Linked DNA regions of Homo sapiens. The protein of the gene in region 3 purifies or fractionates together with the protein of the main gene of each other region. This does not show direct contact. Each region holds a gene or a part of one and is shown on either strand. Other genes may lie near its edges. The genes, in order: EIF2A, SAR1B, SNRNP27, NAA15, TOMM34, ETF1 and ILKAP.

Region 1 (3,500 bases), on a different chromosome or scaffold from region 3:
CAATGCCCTGATTTTGGCTCACTGCAACCTCCACCTCCGGGTTTCAAGCGATTCTGCTGCATCAGCCTCCCGAGTAGAGTAGCTGGGATTACAGGCGCCTGCCCCCACACCCGGCTAATTTTTGTATTTTTAGCCGAGATGGGGTTTTGCCATGTTGGCCAGGCTGGTCTTGAACTCCTGACCTCAGGTGATCTGGCCTGCCTTGGCCTCCCATAGTGCTGGGATTACAGGCGTGAGCCACCGGGCCCAGCTTTTAATTTAATTTTTAAATTTAAAACAATTATATGGTCCAAAGTCAAAACTATACCAAAGCTCTTTCACAGATGTGTCCCCTGCATCCTGTAACTCTCTCCCCCGCATTCTGTAACTCTCTCCCCCTATAGATAAGCATTTTTAACTAGTTTTTGGTTTACTTGTCCATTGTTTCTTTGGGGAAAAAAAAATTAATCTAGCTAGCTATATACTATGTGCATATATATGTCCTCCCTTTTTAATATCTTTTTCATTATGATTTCACTAAGATTACTGGCCATGATTTGGCTATCAAATTTGCAAGTTTTTCTCATTCCTTAAGATACAACTCTTGTAAAATAAAGGCTTGTATTCAATTACACTAGTGTCTACACTTTTTCTTAGTATTGTTCCCCCTACCTTATAAATAGGCTTAAGTTACTATTTTCAGATCTGAAGATCATTTTCCTTGATAGAGAATATGTATTCTTTTCATCTTCGGTAAATATTATACAATAAAAATGAGTTCATCTGTTCTTTTCCTTTCTTGTTCAAAATACACCACCAACAAAACCATTTTAGATTGTACTGTATGTTCCCTATAACATTACTTAACAAAATAAATCATACCTTGGAAACACTGTGCTTTCTGTAAAATGTGGTGGTCCATTCACCATGTACAGTCCTTCTGATCCTCGGACTAAAGAAGTAAAATAAAAAGAACCACAATTACTTTGTTAATAAAGACTCAGTTAACACAAATGTGTTTTTTAAAAAAGCAGCTTTAGTCAAAATATTAATGAAATCATTAAATATTTCATTGAACTATAGAATATTAGCAACAAAAGGGCATATTTTCTTACTCTGTTACATAAAATCATATAATTGCTGAGAAATACGTAACTTTTTAAATAAAACTCGAAACTTTGTCACCACTGAAAGAAAGGCAGCTGTCTTGTGGTAAAGAGGACATGAATTCAGAGCCTGACCTAAGTTTATAACTGCCTGTGGAACCTTGGATACGTTACCACCTCTGAATCTGTGACCTAATCTGTAAAATGGAAATATCAGAACACAGGATAGCTGTATGCTTTATATAAAGTAATAAAAAAAGTATATGTTTAAAGTTTTTAGAAATATAAGGCAATATTAATATATTCACAATTTATCAAACTAAGAGAACAAGTGGAATGAGACATATTCATTTATTAAGGCCCCAATGACAGTAATAGCCTAAAAAATTAAGTGGAAACAAAGTTCAAGATTAAATAATCATCTACAGAACTAGACTATACTTCTTATTTCTATGTTTAAATTTATTTATTTTTTTGAGACAGGGTCTTGCTGTCACCCAGGCTGGAGTACAGTGGCATGATCAAGGCTCACTGCAACTTCAAACTCCTGGACTTAAGTGATGCTCCTGGCTCAGTTTCCCAAGTAGCTGGGACTACAGGCATGTGCCACCCTGCTTGGCTATTTTTTTTTTTTGTAGAGACAGAGTCTCACTGTTGCCCAGGCTGATCTCTAACTCCTGGGCTAAGGCAATCCTCCCTCCTCAGCCTCACAAAGTGCTGAGATTACAGGTGTGAGCCACCGCACCTAGCCTAGACTATACTTTTTTAAATGGTTGAATTAAATGCTTCTAAAGCTGAACCAAATAAATAGATTCATTTAGTCAACAAATGCTTAGTGGGAAAAAAACGAACAAACTACCTCCTAGGCCCTGTGTTGAACATTGGCGAAATAATAGGAAAGAAAATCAGCCTTGTCTCTGACCTCATTGAACTTTGCAAACAGTAATCAAATAATTGGCCAAATATACGGAATCATATACCTGTGTTTAGTCCTTCAAAGGAAAGGTATATGGTACCACTGAGGGTATAAAAGAGAGTTTTAACCTAAAAATGGAAGGTTAGGGAAAGCATCCTTAAGTGTTTTGTATACTGAGATGTAAAGGATCAATGGCAGTTAACAAGCAAGGAGAACAGTTAACAAGTGCAAAAACCCCATGGAAAGAAAAACGACAGAGCGTCAAGGGGATGGAAAGAAGGCCTGTGTGGCTAGAGGATGATGAAGCTGGAAAACAAAATAGGGCTCAGGCTAGGCGTGGTGGCTCACACCTGTAATCCCAGTACTTTGGGAGGCCGAGGCAGGCAGATGGCTTGAGCCCAGGAATTCAAGACCAGCCTGGGCAACATAGGGAGATGCTGTCTCTACAAAAATTAGCTGGGCACGGTGGCACATGCCTGTAGTCCCAGCTATTCGCACGGCTGAGGCAGGAGGATCACCTGGACTTGGGAAGTCAAGGCCACAGTGAACCATGATCATGTCACCCACCACCAAGCCATGTTAAGTTTTATATTTCTTGTAGAGACGAGGTTTCACTACATTGCCTAGGCTGGTCTTAAACTCCTCAGCTCAAGCAATCCAATCTGCTTCCCTCAGCCTTCCAAAGTGCTGGGATTACAGCTGTAAGCCACCTGGCCCAAACTGACATTTTGTACTTCTAAGATGCCTTGCTAGATTTAATTAGTTTTTCTATTAAATAAATTTAATAAAAGCATATACAGTTTAATTTACTCCTGATAAGCTGTGATACAAAGTTTATTAGAAAAAAACACAAAATCAGGTCCATAACAGAACATAAACTGTTTTAAACTAATAAAAGCAAAAATAAATAGGGACTAAAAAACTTCTCAATACTGAAACAATTTTTTTCTACATGTAACTTTCTAACAAGGAATCCTTTTTAGTTACAAGTATCTGTGAAACTAAATACAATGCGTAGTTAGCTTAATATAGTGTATTCTGAGTTTGTGTGATTCCCTGTTTTTAGTGATTTCCCTCTTCAATCAAATGGGATTGGCAATATGTTCTAGCAGAAAGAAAAATCTAGAATGCAAGCAGTTCTTTTAAGACAACAAATAAACGCCAGTTTCACACAGTAGCTGTGTGAAATACATTAAACATCTACATAATCTTTTCCAAGCTTACTAGCCTTTTTAGACATTCATATACTATTTATTGCTCTAGGCCTGAGTTAGAGAGAGAAAAACACAGGGCTTCAATAAACAAGGATCCCATGGCAGGGGTGTAGTCATCTTTAAAATACGATACTTTTCCCAACTCTTACATTCACTGAACTATGTATTAGTTTAGGAAAATCACTCAATTTTGAATAAATTATCTCTGTGACTTCAACTGGTCAAGCAGATTAGACAATGTGAATTTCACGTAATGGACATTGCTGTTTTATGTGCCTAGCAACC
Region 2 (3,500 bases), on a different chromosome or scaffold from region 3:
CCCTAAATTTTAAATCTACTCTGGCCTTGCGTGACTAGAATGAGATTTCATGCACTAGAACTAATGGCCACATTTTTGTTAAGTTAAAATAAAACAAAGTGACTGTAAGAGTAAGAGAATCTTACCTTGAACGTGGCGAAATCCCATCTCTACTAAGAATACAAAAATCAGCTGGGCGCGGTGGCACATGCCTGTAATCCCAGCTATTGGGGAGGCTGAGGCATGAGGATTGCTTGAACCCAGGAGGCAGAGGTTGCAGTGAGCTGAGATTGCACCACTGCACTCCAGCCTGGGAGACAGAGTGAGCCTGTCTAAAAAAAAAAAAAAAAAAAAAAAAAAAAAAAAAAAAAAAAGAATCTTACCTTGAACATGTCCACCCAGATCAAAAGTTGTAAACGTCATGCCAGCAATGGTCAGTTCTTCGGAAGCTAAATAAGATTTTAAAATATTTTTACATGAAAATTAGAAACCCATTAATCGTGTAAAAAGTAAAGTAGAGGTTCCTTTTCAAAGACTTTCCTCCCCATCTAATTAAGAATAAATAGTAACTTCTCTTAGAAGCAAAATTGATTCAAAGACCCGTGCTAACATTCTTAAATATCTGCCAGCCGTAATAAAGAAATCAATGTACTTTATGTTCTTAGCTCCCACAATTTAGCCTAAATATTTGCCCTGGCATACTTACACTGGTCCAAGCAAGCATTAGGTCATAGCCTGTTCCTCTTCCTTATTTGAAGGTGTTTTTACCTTTCTCAGCATTCCACAAGTTACTTCCTCCTTCCTTTGTTCTCCTCTGCCTTTGCCTCTTTTAAAAAGTTCTAAGTTGCTAGCCAATCAGGACAAATACAGAATGTGAGGTCCCATTCCAGCCAATGGAAACCGGACACAGCAGTAGGGTGGACGCATCAGATTATAAATGACCCTGTCTCCTTTGTTCGGTGTACTCTTGTGGCAAAACTGCTGGCAAGTGTACCCTTTCTGCAGAAAGTAAAAATGGCCTTGCTGAGGAAATTAAATTTATGTTCAAGTGCTATCCTTTACAGCACCAGGGAACAAGCATTTCTAACAATAGCTTATATTTACTACTTAATGTTTGATTTACTTTTATTGCAAATAAGGTCAAATCAAACATTTACAAACTGGTACAATAATACTTTTTTGTAATTAGATATACACCAATTCATACTGACAATATAACAAATAATTGTAATATTCAGTTCTAGTATTCTACTCACCACAAATCCAACATTTATTTTTCCTTCTCTATTCTTCCTGCTGAAAATGTTAATCTCTTCAGACAATTATTTGCTATGAATTCAAATAACTGCTCCAATCTAATAATTGTTCATATAATTCATCTTAAATGATACAGGTGAAATAATTTTCTCTTATGGCTGACATAAGACAGTCTTTAATTACAAAAACAATTACCATAAAAAATTGTGGCCATTATTTCCATAACTATCTTTCTTTCTCCTCCCTTCCACTTCTGGGACTTCAGTTGCAGGTTTGTTAGACTGCCTGATGTTGTCTCACCAGTCATTGAGGCTCTGTTTATTTTGCTTTCAGTCACTTTTCTCTCTGTGCTTCATTCTGGAGTTTCTGTTGCATTGAGTTAAGTTTAGTGGTCTTTCTTTCTGCAGTACTGGCACTATCTAATTTACTATTAATCCTATCCAGTGAAATTTCCATTTCAGGCTGGGCATGGTAGCTCACACCTGTAAGCCCAGACTTTGGGAGGCCAAGGTGGGAGAATCACTTGAGCCCAGGAGTTCGAGACCAGCCTGGGCAACCCAGGGAGACCCTGTCTCTATTAAAAAAAAGAAAGAAAGAAAAAAAAGAAATTTTCATTTCAAATACTGTATTTTTCATTTCTAGAAGTTTCATTTGATTCTGTGTTATATCTTCCATTTCTTTCCTCATGTTTGTGTTTTCCTTTAAATCCCTGAGCACATTCATAACGATTGTCTTATGTCTTAATCTGCTAATTCCATCATCTTTGTCACACTTGTGTCTGTTTCTACTGACTGAATCACTTTCCTGTTTCTTTGCATGTCTAGTAATTTCATATTGAGTGCTGGATTTTGTTGTAGTCTTTTGAAGAAGGTTGAATTTTGTTCTGACAGTTCACTTGCTTACAGATCAGTTTTTAACATTTGTTAGAAGGCTAAATGGGATTAAACAACAATTCCTGGCCCCATGAGAGCTCTAGTAATTATTTGGCTAACAGCATTCTTACAATTGTTCTTTGACTAGCCTTTTGGAGCTTTACCCATTGCATGCACAGATTGGTATTCAGCTATGTAAATTTCTAGAGTCCTTTCTCTCCAGAGGTCCCTCCTCTCCGGTACTCCCTCCTCTCTGTCCTAGCAAAAAAATTCTAGTCCTGTTGGCCTTTCCAAATTCTGGTCTACATCTCCTCAACTCAGCAAGACTATTGGACTATGTTTGGGTGTCCTCTCTTTGCACCATGGTCTGAAAATTACCTCTTGGCATAAAACCAAAATAGAGTTGTTTCCTTTCTCTCAGGAATCACAGTCCTGTGGTAGCTGTTGCCCAATGTCTGAAAACAGTTGTAGCATCTTTTTTTGTCCGGTTTTCTAGTTGTGTACAGTGGGAGGGTAATTCCAGAACCAGTACTCACTTATGGCCAAAAGCACAAGTGCCCCATAATGACAACATAAGTTTTAGTGTAGCTACTTTAGCCCAGAGTTTTTATCTTCTTAAGAAATTCTGGGGGCCGGGCGCGGTGGCTCACGCCTGTAATCCCAGCACTTTGGGAGGCCGAGATGGGCAGATCACGAGGTCAGGAGATCGAGACCATCCTGGCTAACGAGGTGAAACCCCGTCTCTACTAAAAATACAAAAAATTAGCTGGGTGCAGCGGCAGGTGCCTGAAATCCCAGCTACCAGGGAGGCTGAGGCAGGAGAATCGCTTGAACCCTGGCGGCAGAGGTTGCAATGAGCCGAGATTGCCCCACTGCACTCCAGCCTGGGGAACAGAGCGAGACTCCATCTCAAAAAAAAAAAAAAAAAATTACCCAGGCATGGTGGCAGGTGCCTGTAATCCCAGCTACTCAGGAGGCTGAGGCAGGAGAATCACTTGAACCCAGGAGGCGGAGGTTGCAGTGAGCCGAGATTGCGCCATTGCACTCCAGCCTGGGCAACAGAGAGAGATTCTGTCTGAAAATAAGAAGAAATTCTGGGCCGGGGGCGGTGGCTCACGCCTGTAATCCCAGCACTTTGGGAGGCTGAGGCGGGTGGGTCACGAGGTCAGGAGATCGAGACCATCCTGGCTAACACGGTGAAACCCCGTCTCTACTAAAAAAATACAAAAAATTAGCTGGGCGTGGTGGCAGGCGCCTGTAGTCCCAGCTACTCAGGAGGCTGAGGCAGGAGAATGGCATGAACGCGGGAGGCGGAGCTTGCAGTGAGCCGAGATTGCACCACTGCACTCTAGCCTGGGCGACAGAGCAAGACTCCGTCTCAAAAAATAACAA
Region 3 (3,500 bases):
TAACACGAAACATATAATTTAGAAATAGAAAAGAGTTCCAAAACAGGCACCCATTGAGCAAATTCAATTGCACACTGTAATGATTCTCCCCCTAAGACCTTATTTGAAGGTAATTTTACAAAAGACTGTCCAAGATGATTCTAGTACCTTAGCTTATAGCATTTTCAATCACATGATTCATAATCTAAATTAACTGGACTATTAATCTTTTATCAGCGACAAAGTTAGAGAGAAAGGCAATGTTTGAAAATATCTTGACTTTTTCATTCATTAAGAATTCAGTGAGATTTCATGTATGGATTGGTTCGCTCCAAAACTGTGGTACAAATAAAATATGCCTATACTTAACAGAAGAATATATTTACAGTTGAAATCCTTACATAATCAATCTAGTTTAGGAGGGATCTATCTTATACCTAAATTATAATGAAATCAAAGCCCATAGACTTGAAATTATGCTTTTCTGAGGAAATTACTATCTATAGTCCTAAAATATTTAAGCCAACTACCCTCTCTCTAATAGCTATTAGCTTACATGTAAATGGGAAAACAATTTTAACACACCAGAATATAAGCAATGAATATTTCATTCAAACAAGGAACAGTATGGAAAACTGCTACATTTCCTACAAACATGATTATCTCATAATAAAGTTTGAAGTAAAAAACTGATTTATTAGTTCAAACATAATAATGGGGGCTATGCATACCTGTACTTCCTCTTCTGAGAGACATTTATGGCATAGGCATTTACAGAGCCATCCACCTTCTTACCCTGAAGAAAAACAATAAACAAACAGACAAAAAACAGGAAGGATACATTAAATCAGGATACATGAAAGCAGGTGTGGTGGCAGTGGCATGTACCTGTACTCCCAGCTACTTGGCGGAAGGCTAAGGTGGGAGGATTGCTTGAGCCCAGGAGTTTGGGACTGCAAGTAGCCATAATCACACCAATGCACTCCAGCCTGGGCAACTGAGCATGATCCAGTCTCAAAAAAAAAAAAAAAAAAAAAAGAAGAAGAAGAAAGGAGGAGAAAGGAAGAAGGAGGAAGGAAGAGGGAAGTAGGGGAGAAGCGGGGGCCGAGGGGGAGGAGGAGAAGGAGAAGCAGCAGAAGAAGCGGCAGCGGCAGCAGCGGAAGGGGAAGAAGCAGAAGAAAAGCAGAAGAAGAAAAGAAGCAGAAGCAGCAGTAGCAGAATAAACAGAAGCAGCAGCAGCAGAAGAAACTGAAACAGCAGCAGCAGAAGCAGAAGAAGAAGCAAGAGCAGCAGAAGGAGCAGCAGAAGGAGCAGCAGAAGAAGCAGAAGCAAAAGAAGCAAGAGCAGCAGCAGCACAAGCAGCAGAAGAAGCAGAAACACAAGCAGCAGAAGCAGAAGAAGCAAAAGCAGCAGAAGGAGCAGCAGAAGCAGCAGAAGCAGAAGCAGAAGCTAGAGCAGCAGCAGCACAAGCAGCAGCAGCAGCAGAGGAAACAGAAACAGCAGCAGCAGAAGCCGAAGAAGAAGCAAGAGCAGCAGAAGGAGCAGCAGAAGAAGCAGACGCAGAAGCAGAACCAGAAGAAGCAGGAGCAGCAGCAGGAGAAGCAGCACAAACAGAAGCAGCAGCAAGAGCAGCAGCAGCAGCAGCGGAAGTAGAGGAAGGAGGAGGAGGAGGAAGAAGGAGGAGGAAGGAGGAAGGAGGAGGAGGAAGGAGAAGAAAGAAGGAAGGAGGAAGGAGAAGAAAGAAGGGAGGAGGAAGGAGGGAGGAGGAAGGAGGAAGGAGGAAGGAGGAGAGTCCAATGAGGCAGAGATAATTTCCAGATCCTATGAGCTCCCAAGTGGTATAACTCTCTGCTCACATTTTTACAATCGTGTATAAGCAATTAATATTCAAACCAACAAACATTCACAGTGTATGTACTATGTGCAAAGCATGCTGAGAAAGTAGGGTAGCAGAATCTAATCTTTTCTGGTCAAAGAATACCTTGAAACCAGATAAAAGGTATAATCTCCAGAAAAACTCACATTCACACAAAATTTAACTTACAACCTTAGCTAATAATATTCTCATATCATGGCTGGAATGGTTGCCATTCATCTAAATCCCATTTCTTGTACAACCCTTGCAATTTTTTGTTCATTTTAAAAATTATTATTTTTTAGACACAGGGCCTCACTGTCGCCAGGTTGGAGTGCAGTGGCGTGATCATAGCTCACTGCAGCCTCAAACTCCTGGGCTCAAGTGATCTTCCTGCCTCAGCCTCCCGAGTAGCTGGGACTACAGGCACATGCCACCAAGCTGGGCTAATTTTTAATTTTTTTTTTCTGTAGAGATGGGATCTCACTATGTTGCCCAGGCTGGTCTTGAACTCCTGGTCTCAAGCAATTCTGCTGTGTTGGTCTTCCAAAGTGCTGGAATCCCAGGCATGAGCCGTTGTGCCCAGCCCAATTTTGATCTTTAAATCAAGAATCAGAACAGAATAACAGACACAAATGCTAGGTTGTTATGTGTTACTCCATCTTGACCTTTCTGAATGTAGCACCCATCCTCTTTTTCACAAATTCTTGTTCAGGTCTTCTGATCAGCCAAGTCAACTCAACATACCCACTTTCCCCCATGTTGTTCCTCATGCCTGAATTGCCTTCCCTGCCTCCAACTTGAACTATCTGGTTATTACCCATTGTTCAAGGCCCAATTCAAACATTCCAGGTGCCAGGAAGTGCCCTCTTCTCTAACTGCTGAAAAATGTTAACTGTGCCTTCCTCACAGTACCCTCTATTTCTTTCTTTCTTTCTTTTTTTTTTTTGAAATGGAGACTTGCTCTGCCACTAGGCTAGAGTGCAGTGGCGCAATCTCGGCTCACTGCAACCTCCGCCTGTCGGGTTTAAGTGATTCTCCTGCCTCAGCCTATCGAATAGCTGGGACTACAGGCATGCACCACTACGCCCAGCTAATTTTTGTATTTTTAGTAGACATGGGGTTTCATCATGTTGGCCAGGATGGTCTTGACCTCTTGACCTCGTGATCCCCCGCCTCGGCCTCCCAAAGTGCTGGGATTACAGGCATGAGCCACTGCACCCAGCCCAGTACCCTCTATTTTCTACCCTATAAAACCATGATGTACATCATAAAGTTATTTTCCCTATGAGACTGCAAGCTTCTTGATGGAGGGATATGTCTGAGAGTCACCTTTGCATTCTCACATCCTAGGTCACTGCACTCCCAGATATTCAGAAAATGACTTAGATGAGTATCATCAGCTAACGTCGTGACACATACAAGTGACCCCCACCTCCTCCCTCTCCCATTACTACTTATGCAAGATTAGCCTATCTGTGTAGTGTACTTAATTAGATATTGGTGTCAGGGCAAAGACCGATTCTGACCCACTGGCCAAAAGGCATACACAGACGAACAGTATATTTGAAGTGGGGCTAAAATAAATGTATTTGGTCTTACTTTTCTATTCCTATTTTCATGTATTTTTTTGGAGGTGGAAGGTAAGTCCTGAACAAATTACTTG
Region 4 (3,380 bases), on a different chromosome or scaffold from region 3:
CTCTATAACAAAACAGCAACAACAAAAGAGGAGGTGTGTCCTGATGGAGGCAGCAGGTTTGAATATAGTATATAACCAAGACAGTACATAAAAGATACTCTTCTGATTTATTAAAACAGCATTATTGGCTGGGTGCGGTGGCTCACACCTGTAATTCCAGCACCTTGGGAGGCCGAGGTGGGCGGATCACCTCAGGTCGGGAGTTAGAGACCAGCCTGATCAACATGGAGAAACCTCGTCTCTACTAAAAATACAAAATTAGCCGGACGTGGTGACGCATGCCTGTAGCCCCAGCTACCCAGGAGGCTGAGGTTGCGGTGAGCCGAGATCGCGCCATTGCACTCCAGCCTGGGCAGCAAGAGCAAAACTCCGTCTCAAAAACAAAACAAAACAAAAAACACCAGCATTATTTTCTCCAGAACCTCCTGTACATTACCAATATTTTAATTTCAACAACGATCTCAGATTGCATACTAAAAGGTAAAAGTGCAATTCAGTAATCTTTTCCAAAAATGTTTTATTGCTACAGGTTGAAATTTTTCAACCATCAAAATTAGAACAAAATTTAAGTTTCTGCTCACTATGGTGTAACACAGCCATTTCGTGGGACTTTGTTTTTAATGTAGGTTGGCAGTAGAGTTCAGCAAAGTTTAGATGATAGCAGAATGGTATCATGAAACTTTGTTTATAACTTAAAGAAGTGGGGCATTAGCTAGAATAGAAAGACCGCCTTCTATTTGAAAGGTCAGTCTTTCTTTGAAATCTCAAAGATTCATTTCAAAATTTAAGGCTTTAATTATCTGACACAAGTATATACCTATCTTGCAACAAAGTCCAATATTTTACATTACAGCTTTTCCCAAATACTATACATGGTAACTGAAATATTCTTAGAAATCATACAAGACTTCCCTGAACTTACCACAACCTACCTGAATCTGGACCACACTTTTTTTGATCTCTTCATAAAGTCACAGCTTTCATTTCACAGCTCTAATAGCAATACACCATGGAGTACAAACAACACTGTGAAAAACAAGGGCCTGATAAAGCCCACAGCAAAGCTATTCACTAATATTGGCATTACCTTTAGCCATGCTATTAGAGATCACACTTTATTTTTGTGCATAATAAATACGATACAGAAAAATGTTGAAAATATATGACTCAACTATCTAATTAAAGCTGAGTAAACTAACCTAGTCAGATTTTAGTTTTTCAACGAGAAATGACAAGAGTAGCTGAATATAAAGAAAAACAAAAAGAACTTTACTTTCCTATGTTAATACAGGTCAAGAGACCCTTTCTTCTCAAAAGGGTTGGTAACACCAGTTCTTAGCAATAAACATAAGGCACTTGTTTAGATTACAACATCACTCCATTTTTTCCACTTGTTTTTCTAACCCTGTTTTTCCCCCACAGTATCATTTGAAATTAATAGGATGAATGAGGCAAATATGAGACGATCCAGTTGATACTACTCAGAGCAAGATAGTACAGTACAGTGTTTCAGGGGTGATGTCTGGACATAAAATGAACCCAGTCAAGGTCCTCTGACACCAATGTATCCACTATCAAGTAAACCTGAAAGAAAATAAAAGATTTATTCAATAGTTCCAGTAAAATTGGGTTGGAATACAATACACATTAGGAATTTAGCTCCTCACGGGTGGCATCTGCATCTTAAGAGTTCTGAGTACTTATGAATATTCATTCTAAGACAATCTACATCATTTGAACATTGTCAAGACAAATAAATGAATTTCATTTCAATATACAGTAGAGTTTAAACAAAATTCACACATACACCCCCTATTATATGGCTGGTACCTCCTCCAAACACCTCATTAGTGGCAGAGGTAGGACTAGTGTTCTTTCCCAACAATAAGAACTTCAGTTGCCACTCATAGGAGTTGAAAAAAAGTTTTTGTTTTTTTGCCATCTGTTAAGATGTTCCTGAGACAGGGCCAGTTAATAAAACATAACAAAGCACTGGAGTTCGGTTTGTACTTCTCTTTACATCACTACTAAACTGTTAGACTGAGATGTGGAATGCAGGTCATGTACTATGAAAAGTTGATTGTAGCACAACTGTTCAATCAGTAAAAGGTCTTCGGCAAATTCCCTTTAGAGTATACTTTCTATAAACTACATGTTCCACAAAAAGGTCAATTATATATACAATTGATTTGTTTTACTTAATCTTATTTGCTCAGATCTTGCAAATGCAATGAGAATATTAAGCCTGAGGCTAGTTCTCAGTGTATAGGTTTAACAAATTAAGGCTCATTTTCCCAAATCAAAATAGTTTTTAGTTTTCCTTTTAAATTATGAATTACATTCATAGTACCTGCCACCAGCCTTGCCCTCAATGAAATCTTAATGCAGGAGCAGCATTCTACTTCATTATGGAATTTCCCTGACACCAGCACTTAGCCCCTTCTAAAAAGCTCCCATCTGCACTAGCCTTACAGCATATTACATTGCCTCTGGCTTGCACCTCTGTTTCCACCTGTGTATTTCACAGAAGCCCAACACAGATTAGTTGAAATATTCACACAACTGTTTTTCAAAACAATTTATTGCATCATATTTGGTACCTTATGTTTGACAACAAAAAGGAAATTACATCTGTAACTGCAAGAAAAAGAAGCTGGTCTGTTATTTGAAAAAAAAAAAAAAAAAAAAAATCTTGGGCCCTTTAAAAATTACAAAGTCTTGGGCTTGCCTGAAACAACTGAGCAAGAAATATATTCTTAGAAATGTAGGGCTTCAAGTATTACAAACCTGTGACACTGTGGAAAAATTCCAGAGGTATCTAAACTGCAGCACTTTTTTTTCTGCATATCGTGAACAAGGCCTGCTGAGGTTTTTAACTATTAGTCTTTTGATCAGTCATAGAATGGTAGTCAGGAGTTCTGCTCTTTAACTTCAAGCCATGGTAGATTTTCCTTTTTTCACTCTTGGGTGAAAAATTCATGCTTGCTAATTAGTTGGTGCCACATCACAGTGCATTTGGTTCTTGCATTACAGTTTTAACAAGTTTGGCCAAACAATGCTGAAAGGTTTGCATTGTTGTTTTAGTTCTTCAAGTTTTAGTTAAAATTGAGACTGTTACAACTGGTTCCTTCAGTTAAAAACTGTGGTACAAGAACACCAAACTGATCATGTACAGTGAATTTTGGAAACACAAGCGTATTGAACACCTTATAGGTTTCTTATAATTTTGCTTGGTATCTATATGTCCCAGTTTCTACAACATCAAGCATCTGTTGTAGGTTTCTCTGTAAATAGTGATTCACATTGCATACTTCCTATGGTCAGAATCAACCCCGTAACAAAATCAGTCAGATGCTAAAGCCCCAACAACTCTTTGTGCT
Region 5 (3,500 bases), on a different chromosome or scaffold from region 3:
CTGGCATAAATCTCTGTAGCTATGTTGGGACCTTTTGGCCAGGATTTTTTTTTACCTTGAGTGCTTTGTGGGCTTGAGCCCGTCTGTAGAATGCCTTCACGTTCTTTCCATCCAGCTTGAGGGCTTCTGTGCAGTCCTTCACTGCTTCTGTGTACTGCTTCAGGACCAAATAGCAGAGTGCTCTGAAGGGAAAGACCATTTCAGAGGTTTCAGTCACGTCTTATGGGCCACCCACATGCCACGCAGTAGTTTGAGAAGTGATCTCCAATTTGCTGAACACCTACTCTGTGCTGGTTACTTTATGTCTTCTTAAATCCTCACAACAATCCTAGCCCTTTTCATGGATGAAACATGCTGGCTCAGAAGGGTAAAGGAACTTGGGCCAGGTACCGCCAGTATTAAGGGGCAGACCCAGGATTCAAATAGGCGGGCGTTCGTTCATGGGACTCCAGATCCTGATCTCATCTAGTTCTATCATGCTGTACTGCGCTCTCCTATACTGAGCTCTTTCAAGCAAAGAAAAGGTTTCCTGAAACTTTTCCCTTGACAGATTAAAAAATTATCTACTTTAAGGGGGAAAAAAAAACCCAACAACTACTGAACTCTAATGATATAATGCTGACATGGGGTGAAATGTAAAGACGTTTGCAATTTACTTTTAAGTGCATCAAACACAATAATACAGACCAACAGATGGCTAAATAGTGATAAGGCAATGTAATAATACTAATTGTAGAATTTAGATGGTAGGTCTATGGGTGTTCAATGTACAAATCTTTCAACTTTCCTATATTTTGAACATTTTCATAATAAAATGTTGGAAAAAAGTTATGTGCATCCATACAATATATTCTGCATCTGTGGGTTCAAAAAAGTGCATGTGTGTATATATCTTCCTCATTCAGATCTAGTCCTTCTCTCCAAAGACAGTCACTAAAAACAAAACAGTCAGATGTCTGGGCGCTCATTACATAAGTTCATCTGTTCCACCTCACTGTTTTCAGTGGGTGCAGGGTATTCACTAAGTTGGATGTAGCATAATTTATTTTACCAATTTCCTATCAAGAGGTATTTTTCATTGTTTCCAGTTTGTAAATAAGTGATGCCATGATGAACATCCTTGTGCAAGGGACTGCTGTATCCAAAGATACATGCATTTTAAAACCTGACTGGCCAGGTGCAGTGGCTCATGCTTATAATCCCAGCACTTTGGGAGGCCAAGGTGGGAAGGTCACTTGAGCCCAGGAGTTTGAGACCAGCCTGGGCAACATAGGGAGACCCCATCTCTTAAACAAAACAAAACAAAAAAAGAAATAAAATCTGATTGTTACTGCCAAAATGCTTTCCAAAAAAGCTGAATAGTTATTGACAGAGCCTATTTTCCTACAACTGTACCAACTTTGGGTCTTAAATTTTCATGTATGCCAATATGGAATAAAACACTATCTCACTGCCTTAGCTGCTTAGTTGTGGGTAAAGCTGAACATCTTTAATAAGGGTTTTTAATCTTTTGAAATCAAACTTCTCTAACTTTTCCTTTAACGACTTCTGTAACATTTTTTTCCCTTCACATAAGAATACCTTCCCCACTGCAAGATAGTTAATCCATGTGTTCTTCTAGAACTTAATGGTTTCGCTTTTTACATTCCAAACTGTGATCCACTCAGAACTTACTTTAAAATAAGAAGCAAGGTAGGATTCAAGTTTAACTCTAACCTGGCCAACCCAACACCTCTTATTAAATAATCTCTCTTTGCCCCAGACTTTATTATACACCAGATTCTCTCATGTCGTTGTTCTCATTTTTTTCTGACTTATCATGAATTTAAAGAAGAAAATTCTACTAGTCCTTTGTGATTGCATGGAATTCATAAATTAACGGAGAGAAAAATCTTCTTGTAACAACTTAAAAGACAGGCACAAATTCTTTGGCAATCCTCCACTGAGAGGCGGAGGTGTATCTGCTCTCTCTCTTTGAATTCGGGCAGGCTCTGTGACTGCTCTGACCAACAGAGGACAGAGGAAGGGACACGATGTGACTTCCAAGGTTAGGTCATAATAGGCCTTGCAGCTTCCACCTTGGTCTCTGGAAACACTCGCTCTTGGAGCCTTGAACTGACAGGGAAGAAGCCAACTACTCTGAGGCCACCACGCTCTCAGGAAGCTCACAGCAGCACACATGAAAAGGCTGCTAAGAAAGTGGAAAGAGGTGCCAGCTTGCTCTAGCAGTTCCATCACCCAGCCATTTGAGTCAGGCAGCCCAGCTGCCAGACATTCGAGGAAGAAGGCTTTAGAGGATTCCAGCCCCAGCTACCATCTTGCTGACCCTGCATGAGAGACCCCAAATGAGAACTGCCCTTCCCTAATTCCTGACTCCACAAATTACAAGCAAAATAAAATGGTTGTTGTAAATCACCAAGTTTTAGAATAGTAGCCCGTTTTAAACTTTGAACACAGAAGAATTCCTTTTTTTTTTTGGAGACAGGGTCTCACTCTGTCACCCAGGCTGGAGTGCAGTGGCATGATAACAGCTCACTGCAACCTCCGCCTCCTGGGTTCAAGCGATTCTCCTACTTCAGCCTCCCGAGTAGCTGGGATTACAGGTGCATGCCACCATGCCCAGCTAACTTTTGTATTTTTTGGTAGAGATGGGGTTTCACCATGTTGGCCAGCCTGGTCTCAAACTCCTAACCTCAAGCAATCTGCCCACCTCAGCCTCCCAAAGTGCTGGGATTACAGGCATGAGCCACCTCTAAACATAGAGGAATTCTAAGGAAATTAAAGTTTCCTCCCAATGGGCTTGGCAATTTAAAGAAATAGCCAAGTGTCTGGGAAGCAGAGGAACCACCGTGTATCGTGACTTCAGAATAGAAATGTGATTAATAGGGTCATGTGAGACTTCTAAAGACTATATTTAAGATGAACAAAATGCATAACTTCAGGCAATAAAATAAACCCCCTTGACTTTTGGTAAATGAAGTAACTGTATCCAGTCAGAAGGGTTTTAATTACAAAGGGGTTGGGAAATAACACAAGTGAGTGAAAGGGAAATAAGCTTTGGAGTCACAAAGATCTGGCTTAAATCTCAGCCACCATGTACTAGTTGTTTAACTTTGTGGTCACTAATTCATCTTTCTGAGCCTGATTAGGTAACACAGGACAATGATCTAAGCTGAAGAACTGTTGTGAGTACAAGTGAGATTCTTATGACAGCTGTTTCAGGGCTGGCAAGTTGTAGGTGCTATGCACTCAGATGTCACCTGCACAAAGGGAGCCAAAGTAAGCCAAAGCCTGGGCATTGTGTCATTCAGATGGGCGTACATGAGGTGGAGCATTAGACTATGTCCAAGACGTTCCAGGACATGATAAAATGTTAGCCACAATGGCTGAAAGTTGTTTTGTCATTAGTCCTCTAGATTAAATTATAAATCCAATGCAATCACAACCAAAAGCTGTCCAACAAGACATTTTTTGGAATTTGCCAAAATGATCCGAAGCTT
Region 6 (3,500 bases), on a different chromosome or scaffold from region 3:
GTGTATATAAGCATCCTGAGGGCAAAAATCATTTTAGCACATAGTGGTGCTCAAACATTTGAAAAATGAATAAATGGCCAATTCCTACCATCATCTCTATATACTCTTTTTTAAGCAAACACCAGAGATTTATTCTAAACTACCAAATAAAATACCAATAAAAAAATCTGGCCGGGCACAGTGGCTCACGCCTGTAATCCCAGCACTTTGAGAGGCCGAGGCAGGCGGATCACGAGGTCAAGAGATCGAGACCATCCTGGCCAACATGGTGAAACCCTGTCTCTACTAAAAATACAAAACTTAGCTGGATGTGGTGGCACGCACCTGTAGTACCAGTTACTTGGGAGTCTGAGGCAGAAGAATCGCTTAAACCTGGGAGGCAGTGGTTGCGGTGAGCCAAGATCGCACCACTGCACTCCAGCCTGGAGACAGAGCAAGACTCCACCTCAAAAACAAAACAAAACAAAAACCAACAACAAATTGTCAGTCCTTGGAGAGGAACTAATGTGCCTTAAATTGACTAACTGTCCCCATCTTTCACTGCACCTAAAAGTTCAAACCATCATACTATATTAGGCGTTTACCTTAAGAAAACCAGCACTAAACAAAACCAACCCTTATGAAGTGTCATTTTAATTTTGTTGATCCTCACATTAATGCCACCCCACTCCCTCTGCTACTACCATCTATGAGGCATGTTAGGAGGTGGATGGGGCTGCCTTTTATAAAAGGTTTAGTTAGACTATCAAATTAGGAGGGATGATTCTGTTACCCTTCAAAGGGACTAGGAAAGTTACCTGAAATTAGTTTATGCAATTGACCTTAGAGTCAGATGCTATTACCAAATGGGAGAAATACCAAGACCGGAACTTACTGAGACATTACAGCAACCTCCACCCTAGGGTACAGAATAACTCAGATGTCCAAACATTTTCAGAATAAAGTTCACAAAGGTTCATTTTAGCTTTCTGTCCCCCAGAGAACAAAGATTTACTCAGTCATCTAAAACAAAAATGTACACATCTGGTAGAGTGTGTACACTTTTTCTACAATGATAGGCATTATTAGTCTTAAAAAGAAAAATTAAAAGATCTTCACAAACCCAGTGGAATATTCCACCAGGAAGCAGCTTTGAAGCTGGAAAATTTCTCTAGTGTTCTTACAACAGTGCAAAGCAAGAGACTGCAATCACAACCAGTGTTCGGGATTCATTACTTCACTACTTAGATCTTTCTAATATACGAATGAGCTCCTGGGGAGGGATTTTGCAACAAGTTATTTCTCTCTCCACTGATGCTCGTCAAGAATAAACATGTTCAGTATCCAAGTTCTTCCTAGGGTGGAAATAGCATGTCTGTTTTCTTTTAAATCTTTGCACCTGAGTCTCAGCACACCTGCTCCTCCTACTAAATTACAAATCTCCATGGACAAGAGTCTTCCTTTCAGAAGGGAATGGGAGACGTCTCTATTCAGCAAAAGAAATACTTGCCAAAGGGCAAGGTAGTGTTGTACAAATTAGCACCACAGGCTTTGAAATCAGAAAAGTGAGTACAGAATCTGGCACTGACCCTTACTAAAGGCTGTGATATTAGGCAGCTATTTACTCCCTGTATGTACTTTAATTTCTTCATCCATGAAATGGCAATAATAGCTTTCCTCACAGAGCTGTTATAAGGTTATAAGGGGGGGGGTCAAATGTATGCTTACTCATCCTCAGAAAACTAGTTTCTTTTTTTTTTTTTTTTTTGAGACAGAGTCTCCCTCTATAGCCCAGGCTGGTATTGGCTCACTGCAACTTCCGCCTCTTGGGTTCAAGCGATTCTCTTGCCTCAGCCTCCCGAGTAGCTGGGATTACAGGCATGTGCCAACACACCCAACTAATTTTTTTATTTTTAGTAGAGACAGGTTTTCACCATGTTGGCCAGGCTGGTCTTGAACTCCTTACCTCAGTGATCTACCTGCCTAGACCTCCCAAAGTACTGGGATTACAGGCATGAGCAACCATACCCAGCCAATGTTACCTTTTTTAAAGAAGAAGAAGAAAGCATTAGTTCCCCCATGAAGCAGATGGGGAAACTGAAGCCCATGGATGAATAATTGGCTTTTTTTTTTGAGACAGAGACTGGCTATGTTGCCCAGGCTGGAGTGCAGTGGCACGATCTCGGCTCACTGCAACCTCCTTTTAATAAAAGATGAATTTCGGCCAGGCGCGGTGGCTCACGCCTGTAATCCCAGCACTTTGGGAGGCCGAGGCGGGCGGATCACCTGAGGTCAGGAGTTCGAGACCAGCTTTGCCAACATGGCAAAACTCTGTCTCTACTAAAAAATGCAAAAATTAGCCGGCTGTGGTGGCGGGTGCCTGTAATCTCAGATACTTGGGAGGCTGAGGCAGGAGAATCGCTTGAACCTGGGAGGTGGAGGTTGCAGTGAGCTGAGATCACGCCACTGCACTCCAGCCTGGGCAAGAGAGCAAGACCGTCTCAAAAAAAAAAAAAGAAAAAATTAGCCAGGCTTGGTGGGACACACCTGTAATCCCAGCTACTCGGGAGGCTGAGCTGAACCTGGGAGGTGGAGGTTGCAGTAAGCTGAGATCGCACCACTGCACTCAAGCCTGGGCGGGAAAGCGAGACTCCGCCTCAAAAAAAAAAAAAAAAAAAAAAAAAAGACCTTAATCATCTGCTTATACTAAATCCCCTTCAACATGTACTGTGTTATTCTGTACTCACTAATATGGAGTTGAAAATGGTTTATATTATCATTCCATGGTTGTGTGGCAGATCATGTTTTCATTTTATTACATATTTCTTCCAAAATGTCTAGTGCCCAACTCACAGCAGATGTTTGGTGAAGCCCATTAGCTTACTGGTTAATAGTAAAAGTGCATTTCTGGCTTCATATTCATATACCCAGATGTGTATTTTGGAGGAAAATCTAGTTTATAAGGTCACAGACACAGCAGGAAAACAAAAAGAACCTTTTATTTTGACTATGATCATTCTTCTAAAGGAGATCTTAGAAGAACAAATGAAAATGTGAAAACAAGAGTACAAACTCAACATGCAGAGCTATCTGTATGATAAGAACCAGTTGCCAGGCACCTGAAAATGTCAAGTCCTCTGAACCTGAAAGGATTGTGAGAAGAGTAAAGAGAGTGGGCAAGGATGTGTGTCAAATGGCATAAGATAAAACCGTATCAGAGGGAGCTTCATCATACTCTCTGAGGACAGTACCCAGTGAGAAACCTCAGACTCTCAATTTCTAACCTGCCGGGGAAAAAAAGCCTGAACCTTCCTAATTCCTTCTCCCCCTCACTAAGATAGTAGGCTGCTGAAGAATTAAAAGACACCTACAGAATGTATCCTAGGAGAAGGTTCTATTCTGAGAGCCCTAGAGAATAGGCTGGACTGAGAAGTAATTTCTACTGTCCAGCCTCTTAGTTGAACAGATCCAGCAGTGGGAAGGCAAATTTCTCCTTCCTACTCTTCAAATAGGATCGAAGA
Region 7 (3,500 bases), about 170 Mb from region 3:
AACTATTTCAAGGAAAAAAAAAAAACAAAAATGCCCACGAGAAATGACATTTATTCTAGAGAGCTGCTTTTCTTTCAAGTTTTTTGGAATTCCTTTTCAATTTAGGACATCCTGAGCCATGAGAAAAAAAACCTCATCTGGTTTATAACTCAGAGCTGTTCTTACTGCCTGTTATTTGCAAGGCATGATGTAGTGTTCCCAATTAAATTTACACTCAATGGATCTGCCTTCTTGGGCTCCAGAGGTCCCTTTCCTGGTTTTAATGCAAATCCCAGGCTGGGTATGGTGGCTCATGCGAGTAATCCTGGCACTTTGGGAGACCAAGGTGGGAAGATGGCTTGAGCCCAGGACTCTGAGACAAGCCTGAGCAACTTAAGGAGACACTGTCTCTACAAAAAATTCAAAAAATTAGCCGGCTGTGGTGGCACATGCCTATGGTCCCAGCTACTCAGGACGCTGAGGTGGGAGGACTGCTTGAGCCTAGGAGGTCAAGCCTGCAATGAACTATGATTGTGCCACTGTACTCCAGCCTGAGCAAGACAGCAAGACCCTGTCTCAATGGGTGTGTATCTCGTCCCCTCTACATATGATCAGCTGCTCTGCAGCAGCCATCACCTCATCTCCATGAGCAGACCTCATCTACTGGACAAACGCCATCAGCCCAAACGGCTCCAGCACACTGTATGTTAATGACCAACTGGTGTCAGTAAAGGTACGTAATGTATTTATTATGTAATTCTGAATTATGTAACCTATGTAATATGTACTATAATGTATGTTTACAGCCAACTTAATGTCCTACCTTCTGGTTTTTTTCCAGGCCCAAGAGCTTATCCAGAAGGCTTCATTTTAGTTTGTATAGTTGCAGCTAATTTTTCATTGTCTGTCTTTTCCTTGACATCATTTTGACTTTTGTTCTTCCTGGGCCCTGATTATCTGTACTAGCTCTGCTTGATCACCATTCATACTTTAATTAGTGGCTTCCAACTCTTATCTTCTAGGTCATGGATTAAAAATATTCTCTGCCAGAAGCCGCTCAGTTGCTGGTAAGGAGTAACACACGCTGCAGAGCCATGCTATGAAGCGTCATCTCCCGCTCAGCAGGGCTGCTCAACCGCGACACTACTGACATTCCAGGCTGAACAATTCTTTGTTGTGGGGCTGCCCTGTGCTTCTAAGATGTTTACCAGCATCCCTAGTCTCTACCCACCAGATGCCAGTAACAACTCCCTCCCGCAGTTGTGACAAAAATGTACCCAAACACTGACAAATGTCCCCTGGGCGGGGAGCAAAATCAACCCCAGCTGAGAATCACTGATGTACAATCAAGTGATGTGTTAGATTTTCTAGTAAATACAAACTAGCCAGTCCAAAATGCCAGTCAGAACCCAGGAGATGTTAATGCCAGCCGGGCTTCCTACCACATGAGACTCACATGAGGGACGATGGGGGCCTACACTCCTCGGTGATGTCGTTCAGGATGACGTGGGCATCCTGCATCTCCTCCCTCTCACCCTTCCGCTCAGCCACATAGCCCTTCAGACCAAAGATCACCGAAGAGGCTAAGGAAAAGAGAACAAAAGAGCCAATACAAAACTGTGCCCAACCCTCTGGAAACCCTAGTCCCAGAGCAAATGAGAGGGAACTATGACTGTCTGACTCAGCAATATCCTAATGGCGCAAACAAATAAGCAATACCCCTTAAGGCATCTCCCCCAGCTGCAAGTCTATAACTCAAATCGGAGCACTGTTGGACAGGGTGAGCTCTAAGAGGTTGCACAGGGACACAAAAGAGGAGTCAGTGAGCACAAAACAACTCTGTCTAGGGTGTAAGTCAAAGCATCAGGGCAAGGGATGTGCTGCCATCCCAGAGAAGTGAGATTCAAATCAGGCAAAAGGATCATGTGCAAATTAGTCTTGTGATAATTGAATAAGGACAAATGCAAGTCAGGAGAGTTTATCTCAAAAGCCCTTAAGATGCCCTGAAAATATGTATTTCCATGCTCAAGGCTGGTGAAGAATTTGAACAAACAGTAAGATCAGCTGCTTTTACTTCAACTGAGGAAGAAAAGGATAAAAGATTCCAATGCAGGCAGAGATCTATTTACATTTAATGGTTAGACTCATTTAAGCTTATTTTCTGATACCTAATGCCAGACAAATAATAAAATGAACACTGTGAAGAGCTGTCTTCTGGGAAGTGACAAGCTAAGTTGAAGATGACATCTTCCCAGCAAAGCTACAAGTGGGTTTTTTCACATACCTCTGCCTGCATCATACAGCTTTCACTGAGGTAATCTGTGACAAAGGACAATGCAGTCAATGAAAATCCCACAGCTCGGGCCAGGCACGGTTGCTCACGCCTGTAATCCCAGCACTCTGGGAAGCCGAGGCGGGCAGATCACAAAGTCAGGAGATCGAGAGCATCCTGGCTAACATGGTGAAACCCCGTCTCTACTAAAAATACAAAAAACTAGCCAGGCGTGGTGGCAGGCGTCTGTAGTCCCAGCTACTCGGGAGGCTGAGGTAGAATGGTATGAACCCGGGAGGCGGAGCTTGCAGTGAGCCGAGATGGTGCCACTCCAGCCTGGGCGACAGAGCGAGACTCTGTCTCAAAAAAAAGAGAAAAAAAGAAAATCCCACAGCTCAAGAATACTTTAGTACCACAACTGAAGTATTCTCTTTAGTTAATACTTTTCGTTTTCTTCCTCACTAACTTTGACAAGTTACACAACTGACTACAAATTTCAACGGCTTTTTCCAGGCTTAGGGAAGCTGCCTACTAAGCTAAATCACGTAATTCAAAGCACTAATTGACAAACTGCAAACAAAGATTGGAAGTCAGAGAGAGACTAGGTGGTCAAAAAACTAACCATTCACTGCAGAAGGCTAAGAAAAAAACCACCTGTATTTTTTAACTCTTGAGGAACAAATGTAGGTTTCCTATCTGATCAAAGGTAGGATCAGAGATAGATGTACATGAAAAGTAGGAGAAAGCACAGAGAAACTTGGAAATTCATTTGCAAAAAGGGAACCCTACTTATTTCTTAAATACAGACATAAAAAGAAAGTATTATTAGAAAGCTGAAACTGGTTTTGCTCTGGGTTGTTTTAAAATATGAAGTCTAATACATTTGTTTTCAAATTGTCTGAAAACCTTTACAAACTTTCTTTTCCACAAGCTCTTCACTGCCATTCTTCTCTTCCTCGGAGGTTTTTCTCTTTGCTCCTTTCCCTTCAGTCTTTACCATCTGGGATATTGATGTGGCAAGAGAACCTGGAAATAAAGTAAAAGCCAGACAGAAACACAGCTGTAGACTGTTGGAAAAAGTCACTAGTAGACTGGGCTTCATCCTAGCACTCAAAGACAAGGTCATTTGAAGCAAGGACTGGCAGACACAGGCAGACCCAGGAGTTGTGTCTTCATGGTTGGCGGGGAGGGGGAGGGGGGTCCCACAGTGAGAGAACATAAAGTTAAGATCCAGGCCCTGAGTCAAACT

The links.
Region 1: the proteins of SNRNP27 (region 3) and EIF2A purify together in Homo sapiens (affinity purification with mass spectrometry; 2 studies listed by BioGRID and IntAct, with this or other methods). This does not show direct contact.
Region 2: the proteins of SNRNP27 (region 3) and SAR1B purify together in Homo sapiens (affinity purification with mass spectrometry; 2 studies listed by BioGRID and IntAct, with this or other methods). This does not show direct contact.
Region 4: the proteins of SNRNP27 (region 3) and NAA15 purify together in Homo sapiens (affinity purification with mass spectrometry; 2 studies listed by BioGRID and IntAct, with this or other methods). This does not show direct contact.
Region 5: the proteins of SNRNP27 (region 3) and TOMM34 purify together in Homo sapiens (affinity purification with mass spectrometry; 2 studies listed by BioGRID and IntAct, with this or other methods). This does not show direct contact.
Region 6: the proteins of SNRNP27 (region 3) and ETF1 purify together in Homo sapiens (affinity purification with mass spectrometry; 2 studies listed by BioGRID and IntAct, with this or other methods). This does not show direct contact.
Region 7: the proteins of SNRNP27 (region 3) and ILKAP purify together in Homo sapiens (affinity purification with mass spectrometry; 2 studies listed by BioGRID and IntAct, with this or other methods). This does not show direct contact.

What each region holds. Positions count from the first base shown.
Region 1 is NC_000003.12:150,549,787-150,553,286, reverse strand, and holds part of EIF2A (eukaryotic translation initiation factor 2A), read right to left. Parts: intron 932-3,500; coding exon 862-931; intron 1-861. UniProt on the Homo sapiens protein: Functions in the early steps of protein synthesis of a small number of specific mRNAs. Acts by directing the binding of methionyl-tRNAi to 40S ribosomal subunits.
Region 2 is NC_000005.10:134,612,329-134,615,828, forward strand, and holds part of SAR1B (small COPII coat GTPase SAR1B), read right to left. Parts: intron 705-3,500; exon of another isoform or gene 686-704; intron 429-685; coding exon 363-428; intron 1-362. UniProt on the Homo sapiens protein: Small GTPase that cycles between an active GTP-bound and an inactive GDP-bound state and mainly functions in vesicle-mediated endoplasmic reticulum (ER) to Golgi transport.
Region 3 is NC_000002.12:69,900,456-69,903,955, reverse strand, and holds part of SNRNP27 (U4/U6.U5 small nuclear ribonucleoprotein 27 kDa protein), read right to left. Parts: intron 776-3,500; coding exon 711-775; intron 1-710. UniProt on the Homo sapiens protein: May play a role in mRNA splicing.
Region 4 is NC_000004.12:139,388,505-139,391,884, reverse strand, and holds the end of NAA15 (N-alpha-acetyltransferase 15, NatA auxiliary subunit), read right to left. Parts: 3' UTR 501-3,380; downstream 1-500. UniProt on the Homo sapiens protein: Auxillary subunit of N-terminal acetyltransferase complexes which display alpha (N-terminal) acetyltransferase (NAT) activity. The NAT activity may be important for vascular, hematopoietic and neuronal growth and development.
Region 5 is NC_000020.11:44,943,398-44,946,897, forward strand, and holds part of TOMM34 (mitochondrial import receptor subunit TOM34), read right to left. Parts: intron 183-3,500; coding exon 56-182; exon of another isoform or gene 55-55; intron 1-54. UniProt on the Homo sapiens protein: Plays a role in the import of cytosolically synthesized preproteins into mitochondria. Binds the mature portion of precursor proteins. Interacts with cellular components, and possesses weak ATPase activity.
Region 6 is NC_000005.10:138,533,237-138,536,736, forward strand, and holds part of ETF1 (eukaryotic peptide chain release factor subunit 1), read right to left. Parts: intron 1-3,500. UniProt on the Homo sapiens protein: Component of the eRF1-eRF3-GTP ternary complex, a ternary complex that mediates translation termination in response to the termination codons. The eRF1-eRF3-GTP complex binds to a stop codon in the ribosomal A-site.
Region 7 is NC_000002.12:238,186,696-238,190,195, forward strand, and holds part of ILKAP (integrin-linked kinase-associated serine/threonine phosphatase 2C), read right to left. Parts: intron 3,278-3,500; coding exon 3,158-3,277; intron 1,563-3,157; coding exon 1,436-1,562; intron 1-1,435. UniProt on the Homo sapiens protein: Protein phosphatase that may play a role in regulation of cell cycle progression via dephosphorylation of its substrates whose appropriate phosphorylation states might be crucial for cell proliferation.